3 separate regions of the Homo sapiens genome follow, and regions 2 and 3 are each linked to region 1. Evidence: fine-mapped expression QTL. A gene starts in region 1. Each other region holds a variant in brackets. All regions are shown on one strand. Distances are from middle to middle.

Region 1 (2,678 bases):
AATTCTCCTTTTGGACAACTTTCTTAAACGTTATTTACCAAGCTAATAAAATGTATTCTCAATGGACTTTTTACTCTGCTTACATCTTTGTTCTTACTCATCCCAAAGCAAAGAATGGAAAAAAAATGAGTTGTACATTTAGCCGGGGAAGGGAAAGGCAAGTACTGAGGGGCTCCTTTTTCATTTACTGATGCCAAAACTGAGGCTGTGGAAGATAAGTTACGTCCCTGATGTCATCCAAGTAGTGGATACCGGAACCAGGAATTGCACAGAATTGTCCAGCTCCAAAACCCAAGCACCTTGCTTGGGACCCACTGGGGTTGCAGTGAAGGTGGGGGGCTCAGAGGTGACTGCACACGGGTCATGCATAGCCACAGTCATTATATGGCCAGAGTTTTAAACATTATTTTGTTCTGTCTTCACCATAGACTTCATCATCAATCATAACTGATAAGGAAAATTACACTTAGCTGAAAAGCCAAGTCCCGTGCTAGGGAGGCATTTTCTGTATGTTATTTCTATTTCCAATAAAACAATTCTTTAAAAAGAAAAACTTATTATCTCCATCTTTCAGATGGAAAGACTGAGGTTTAGTAGGCTTAAATAATTTGCCCGAGGTCACTCACTAGCCAAGGCCAGAACTGGGATTTAAATCCACAAATATTCCAAAGTCCTTTTGTTTCTGTATCACTTCACAGGGAGCTGCTTCCACCTGTCTCCTGTGCCCTTGGTTTCTGCTAATCCTACATTCCAAGAATAAAAGTCTTCCTATGCGTTCCTAGGCAGAAGCCAAGTTTCCCTGCTTTGGGCACGTTCAAAATAGAAGGTATTTTCCGCTTCTCTTGCTTCTGAGCACCCACGAAATCAACACATCCCCAAAACACGCGTTGAGGGAGTAAGGGAAAGTGTCCTGCACCCGCCACCCTCCCGCGCTAAGAGCGGCAGAGGACCCCACAGCTTCGTACTTCCCCGGAGGAGCTCCTGGAGTAGGAGACGGCTTCTAGCCTGGAAGAACCCCGGGTGCGACAGTTGTGCCAGGAAACTTCAAGAGTATTCCCTCGGCTGGGCGCACGCAGTACATCCCCAATGCTCCAATTTGAACTTTGACTCGGCCACGACCACCCCACTCCAGTCTCACTCTACGGTGCTTTCTCCCCTGTTGGTGCTGAGGGCTTTTGAGACTACCTGCCCCGCGCTCCCTAAGTCCGAGGGACCGAGGCGAGGACCTGTCCCGCTGAGCTGGCACGACCCACGCAGGGCAGGCGGCACTTACGCGGCGCAGTCGGTGCTCCTCCCTGAGCCGCGGCGCGCAAGGACCCCAGCCGGTTGTCCTTGCAGCGCTTCCCAAATCAGGCAGAAGTGAGGCAGCCCCACCCAGTCACGAGGACCCTGCAGAACTCGAGCCTTTAAGCGCTCCTCTAGGCTCACATGACCCAGACCCACAGGGCAAAAAGTGCGTCGTCGTGTCCCAACCTCCTGGTCCCAGAAACCTGGCCGCATCAAGTCAGCGCTTCCCATGCTGGAAGAAGCAAGCAGCCCCAGGGTGGAATCTTAAAAATTAATGAAGAGCATCGGCGGGGTGCCATTCAGGTTGGTTTGTCCCTTTGTTTTATTTTGATTTTGTCTCCCAGTTTTTAAAAGCTGCTATCTTAAAATTTCAACCCTGTATTTTGAAATTATTTCTGCACTCTAGGACTTACTTGCAAGCCCAGGATTTACATTTGGAAAGCGAGTGGTGTTTGATTCCCACTGTTTAAAAAGGCAACACACGTTCGCTGATGGTCTACATTCCAGCTGCACTAGCAGTAAGCTCGCACCAAGTGCCACTGTCCTGCCAAGCACTCTCCTGAATCACTGCGCTGGAGTCTCAGAGCCACCTGATGTGTTCTGTACCATTATACCCATTTTGCAATTGGGGGACACAAACTAAGTGAGGTTAAGTAACCCATCCAGGGTCACATTGCTTGTAAGTGACCTGAGTGTATATTATTAGCCACCACCAGGTGCTGGGCATCGAGCCAGACAGTACGGGAGCAAGAACTAAAAAAGGCAAGGAGGTTGCAATGGCAAGTAGATAACACAAAATAAAGGAGGGTCATCATTATCAGCAACAGCAGCGTCAACTGCCAGACAGGTGGGAGAGGCCACGGGGAATCTTCTGCACTGTCCCGGGCCAACCTCCATCTCCTCACAGCTAGCTGCAGGAGTGAGCCCAGGGAAACCCGCAGTAGAGCAGCCCAGCCAACCCGACAGTCAGGGGGAAAAATTGTTTTAAGCCACTTTCAGTTTCGCGTAGTTTGTTATGCAACTAAGGCTAACTAAAGCACTAGTTTTACGAGCTGGAACAAACTAATGTCACTGAATATCTGTTTTCTCCTAAGTACCTACTTTATTGGGTTGTTGTGAGGACTCACTGAAAAACTATGTGTAAATCACCCAGCACAAAGTATGTGCTCAGTGACTGCAGTCATTCTTTGCTATCATACCTTCCATATGGAAGTACTTCCTACCCACCTAGCTCTTTAAGGAGAAAAATCTGTTTGTGGGAAAATAATTCTTTTAAGGCCAAAATCAGCCCACCTTTAATATATGCAGGACCCAGGGCAAAAGTACAAACAGAGATCTGTAGGCCAGATACCTAAATATTTAAAAGTTATAAACAAAGTTAACAAATGATT
Region 2 (2,813 bases), 150 kb before region 1:
TTAACTCATGCCTGAAAAAAACAAAATACCTGCTTGTATTTTCTCTGTAAGTCGCTTCACAGTCTTCTTGCACACTAGTCAGTACTTCAGCACCGTGCTTGAGGCCATTTTAAAAAGCAAAATCAGCCACAAAAAAAGCACAAAAATGCGAAAAAAATGTGGCACTAAACAGACTTAGCAAAGGACAATTGGGCTGGGTGTGGTGGTTCACACCTGTAATCCCAGCACTTTGGGAGGCCAAGGTGGGAGTATCACCTGAGATCAGGAGTTCAAGACCAGCTTGACCAACATGGCAAAACCCCATCTCTACAAAAATATAAAAATTAGCTGGGCTTGGTGGCGCGCACCTGTAATCCCAGCTACTTGCGAGGCTGAGGCAAGAGAATTGCTTGAATCCGGGAAGCAGAGGTTGCCGTGAGCCGAGATCACACCACTGCACTCCAGCCTGGGCAACAGAGCGAGACTCCGTCTTAATAAGAAAAAAAAAAAAAAAGACGATTTTTTACAGTATGAAAGCTGAAACAAGAAGGCAGAGCGTCTCCTTCTTTGACCCCAGCTGGGAATGTATATGTTGGGCAACTGAAATTTTTTGCCACTCTGTACATGACCTCAAAAGAGCAAGTGTATTGATATTGGGGTTACAAATACATTTTTTAGCAAGTAGACTCCATTTGCAAACATGGAATTCTTGAAATAATGAGGATAAACTGGATCATCTCATAGTACCCTTGTAAATAGGTACTACTCTAGTGACATGTGAACCCAAAAGAACCTCAGAAGTCTCCTCTTCTGGCTACCTTCCTTGAGTTTTTGGGAGGCTGGTATGGTGAAGTGACTTCTCCTAAAACGTCCAGTGCATGTGTGATCCATATGAAACTAAACCCAGGTCTCCCAGCCAGTCAGTGCCCTTTCCAGTACATAGTTATGAGACTAAATACAGCTAATTTAACTTGCAGATGGGGCTATATGAAAAACTTCTTGCGTCCTACCCTGTCCCAGTTTATTCTCTGCAATAATTAAAATCTGCTTTTGATCAGAATATTTGATTTAATGACTTCTAGGACATGGGTACAATGAACAATTTAAAAAGGAAGATCACAAACCTGAACGTAATCAGGCACAACATGAGAAATTAAAAGAATAAACTCCATAAACTATTTGCCGCAAGAACAGGCTTTGACTTTTTAAATTTAATTCTCCAGTGAGCCAGTTCATAGATGGGTAATATGAGAAGGAAGTGATGTGGAAAAATCCACACGTCTTGTAGAATTTCAGAGATGTGAGCACATGATGCATAAATCGAAAAGATGTGCCAGGATGTGACATTTTAGTCAGAAAACTGCTAATGAATGTATATTTATAAATGTATATATTGATGCCAGCTTATCTTAATTTTTTTTGATATTCTAACAATGATACAAAATTAGGTTGTTCTTTATTTGGGGAAAAGAAGTAGAGAATTTGAAGCCCAAATTAAAATGGCTCTTATAACTAATGTAGCCTGCAGGCTCTTTCAGAAGTGTGTACACCTCAAACTCAAAGAAGGAAAAAGAAAATGAAAAGGCAAAGATTAAGTTTGTTCTCTGCATAAGAGCATCTGCTTATCAAGAATTGA[C/T]TCATCATTACTTTTATATATAATATTTTTATTTCAAAGAATTCTTTTGTTCTAAGACTTTATACATTTGAGAATCTTTTCCCCAAAACTATTATAGCTTCATCCATTTATTTGGGATAATTGAGCTATTCTTATCCAATAATATTTCCAAACACCTTCACGGCATGCCAAACTTCTGTTATTGGCAGAAAAAGATGTTACAGCTTTGTTTGTTACAACTGCACTTTTCACTTACTCTTAGAAGAAATTAAAACTTCCTATTCAAGACCCTAAAATTTCATTTATACATCTTGTCTCAGTGTCACATCATCCATACCTTTCATCCTTTAAGTTAAATAATGTAATTCTTACTCATGTACTCATGTTAATTTTGTAGTAAACATCTCCCCCCAAAAACAAAAGCTCACTTGTTTCAAGGATAATTTTTATTGATGAAAAAAATCTTGCAGATATGAAAAGATAATTTTTTTATTCCTATGACATTTTCTGTTTTTACGATTTTCTTTTCAGCAATGAAAACCTCTGATGTTCTCTTTTGGGAAGGTAGTTTATCCAACATAAGGATCCCATCCTTTTCCATAAATGAATCGATTAATCATGTCAAAAGCTCTCAGAGGCTGGTCATAGGGTAAAATATGTCCTCCACCTCGAATAATTACCTTAAAAAGAAAAAGTAAAAGAACGGAAATTTAGAGAAATGGATATTCTAAATACATGGAAAGTTTTCATTCAGATTAAACTCTATTTAAAACTCACATGAAATACAGAACATATTCTCCCAATGCATGCCTTTGGACAAGCTGCCTATCTGGCTGTTGATGGCTTTTGTAACAGGCATGTTAAGGTAGAAAAGTTTTAAAGCTTAGTTAATTTTACGCAAAGTTGTATTCTTTTCTCATGAGTGTAAAAATTGAAAATTATTCCTTGTCTTTTTCCTCTAGAGAGTGATCTGCCTGCTCCCCGCAGTTGAGAGTGCTGCACTGCAAGTGTTACCTGGTGAGGCCCACCTCCAGCCCACTACTTCTGGGGTATGTGAGGTCTGCCTGCAATGGGGTGGATTGTCTACTTAATTCCACCCTTCAGTTAGCCAGCCCAATTGTCCCTCACACTGAGCCATACCTTCCATTTTAGCCTTTATCAGTAATGAAGGGGAAATTTTGGTTCTCAAAAAAATTAAAAAACCAAAAACATCCTTGAC
Region 3 (2,813 bases), 120 kb before region 1:
ATGCTGATGAGGATGCAGAGAAAATGAACTCATACACTATTGGTAGGAATGTAAATTAGTACAGCCATTATAGAAAACAATATGGAGGTTTCTAAAAAAAACTACAAATAGAATTACCATATGCTGCAGCAATTCCACTACTTGATATTTTTCTAAAGGAAAAGAAATCAGTATATTAAAGGAATATCTGCACGCCATGTTTATCATAGTACTATTCACAATAGCCATGACATGGAATCACCCTAAGTGTCCATCAACAGATGAATGGATTTTAAAAATGTGGCATATACACACAATGGAATATTACTAAGCCATAAAAAAGAATGAAATCCTATCACTTGCAGTGACATGGATGGAACTGGAGGTCGTTATGTTAAAGGAAATAAGCCAGGCAAAGAAAGACAAATATCGTATGTTCTCACTCACATGTGGGAGCGTAAAAAGTTAATTTCATGGAGGTAGAGAATAGAATGATAGTTACCAGAGGCTGGGAAGTGGGGATGGGTGGGAAGACGAAGAGAGATTGGTTAAGGGGTGCAGACAGTTAGATAGAAGGAATAAATTCTAGTGTTCAATAGCACAGTAGGGTGACTATAGTTAAGAACGATATATTGTATATTTCAAAATGGCTAGAAGAGATTTGAAATGTTCCCAATATAATGAAATGATACATGTTTGAGGTGATGGATATCCTAAATACCCTGATTTGGTCATTAACATTAAATACATGTATCAAAATATTACATGTATTCTATAAAGATGTACACTTACATATCGACAACAACAACAAAACCCTTCCCTCAAACAAATCTCCAAGCCCAGATGGCTTCACCAGTGAATTCTCCTAACACTTAAAGATACCGTTTCCAACAACAGAAAGAGGAAACACTTCCCAACTTATTTTATGAGGCCAGTATAACCATGATTCCAACACTTGAAGAGGACATTGCAAGAAAGGAAGATGATGAGAGTAACATCTGACCCCGCAGTGGAAGTTGCACTAGGGTGTCAGCTAGAGAGATTTTGTCCTGAGGCTCCACATGTAATATAAAAATGTGATCATACATTTGCCAGAGGAGATTGTGTTGAAACTTCCTTTATAATTTGCCAAGTTCTCTCCCCAAATAGACTGCAATTCTCTCATTAATGATTTGCCTCTTTGGACTGAGCACTGTCTTTTTAATGAATTGTCTCCTTACCTCTTGAACAATGCCTAAACTTTTGTCTGGTTTTATATTTAGTCCTATGTATGTCTGAACTCAGACCACTCTTCTCTGTGGAAAGTAGGGCCACAGAAGACACACACTGGCTGTTGTATGGCTTTGCTTAAGGTCGGCCATGTCTCATTGCTATTCAGGCTTTATTTTCAATCCCGCTCTCCCATTCCCACAACCTGCCTGCTCCCAAGCATCTTCCTACCTGATGGAAGTCACCC[G/A]CTTGCCGGATGTAACCAGCCACTTCACTGTCAGATTTAAAGATCTTCCAAACTTTTTTTTCTGCCTTCTTGTATTCCTGGGATCCTTTCCAGTCCATGCCCATCAAGGAGCGCTCTGTCAGGGCAGCTGCCACGATGATGTCCAGTTGGCCATTGTAGATCAGAACCTGAAATGAAATCAAGCCATCAGCAAATGCAAGATTCAGGAGGTGAAGCTCATGAATCGAGCTAGGTATAAATAGTGAGCCAGTGAGAGAGAAAAAGAGACATGAATCTCTCTGAGATTTTCTTCTAGTTAGCCATAAAGAATAACAATCCGAAATAAACTCAAGCCTTGTCTCTACCACTGAATTCTTCATAGTAATCTGCATAAAGGCCTCTCTTGGTTGCAAAAACATTTGTGTTGTATTACTCAGTGATACATATATACAGGTTTTACTTGGACTTATGGCTATGTTAAGAAGGAAGACTGTGGTTACATTTTAGTGGAACTAAGGAATACTACCCCCTAGGATTTTCATGAAGCCTGCATTTCATTAACTTCAACTTCAGGCAGTGCAGTCGCTGGCAAGCTGAGCTTTCTCTTGGGTATTGCTAATCCATATTGCTCTCCTCTCCTACATTGATTTCAGTAGCAAGTATAATTTTTTTGCAGCAGCAGACAGAGAGATTCAGGTGCCTCAAATTTGTTTCTTATTGGAAGCAACTATGCCTGCCATGCCACTTGCAAAACTTCCTTTTTAAAAATATGATAGCTGCTTGTCAACAGTGAGGAATGTTCTTTCTTCCTAGAATACAATTTTTTGTATGTGTCAAACTGATGTTTATCATAGGAAAAACAACACTGAGGTAACTCTTTTCATTAATCCTAAAGCAATTTTCAATTTGCTTGAAAAAATAATTCAGATAATTCCCAATTCTGATAAAGTTGTAGAACTAATGGGGACAGTATAAAATGGCTCTTCTTTTCAGAAAATCAGTAGCCAATTTTCTGCCCCCAAACTTAAAAATGTTGAAATTCCTTGTCCCAGTAATTTCAACTTGTAGAATATATTCTAGGAAAACAGGTCCAAAGAAATTTTAAAAAATTATATATATTCATTGAGTCTTATAATGAAAAACTCAAACACAATCCAGAAGTCCTATAATTGAGTAGGTAAATGCACAACAGTATAAGAATTCTATAGGATATTATAAGACCATTTAAAATGTTTCATTGAACCATGATGCAATGTGGGAAATACTTATCACATAATGTTAAGTATGAAAGCAGAAAGTCAAGTATAATGTATATCACAACTATAACTATAAAAATCAATGTACATATTCACATATATGGAATACAAAGTTTGAAAAATGTTAATATTTAGATGGTGGA

What was found. PIP is the estimated chance that this variant, and not a neighbour inherited with it, causes the effect.
Region 2: its variant is the best candidate, but not a certain one, in a credible set for the expression of CPVL in whole blood (TOPMed, PIP 0.88).
Region 3: its variant is the best candidate, but not a certain one, in a credible set for the expression of CPVL in monocytes (CEDAR, PIP 0.61).

Annotation. Positions count from the first base shown.
Region 1 is chr7:29,145,156-29,147,833 of GRCh38, forward strand. CPVL (carboxypeptidase vitellogenic like) reads right to left here and starts at 1,382. Exons shown (of 13, transcript NM_031311.5): 1 at 1,274-1,382. It also overlaps a transcript of CHN2 not described here.
Region 2 is chr7:28,993,609-28,996,421 of GRCh38, forward strand. CPVL (carboxypeptidase vitellogenic like) reads right to left here. Exons shown (of 13, transcript NM_031311.5): 13 at 1,627-2,274. The coding sequence ends at 2,164. CPVL-AS2 (CPVL antisense RNA 2) reads left to right here. Exons shown (of 5, transcript NR_038965.1): 2 at 2,557-2,643. Among named protein-coding and RNA genes, the nearest start is that of CPVL-AS2, 15 kb to the left of the region's middle. The variant C/T (reference allele first, on the strand shown) is at 1,616.
Region 3 is chr7:29,029,158-29,031,970 of GRCh38, forward strand. CPVL (carboxypeptidase vitellogenic like) reads right to left here. Exons shown (of 13, transcript NM_031311.5): 12 at 1,420-1,602. Among named protein-coding and RNA genes, the nearest start is that of CPVL-AS1, 50 kb to the right of the region's middle. The variant G/A (reference allele first, on the strand shown) is at 1,436.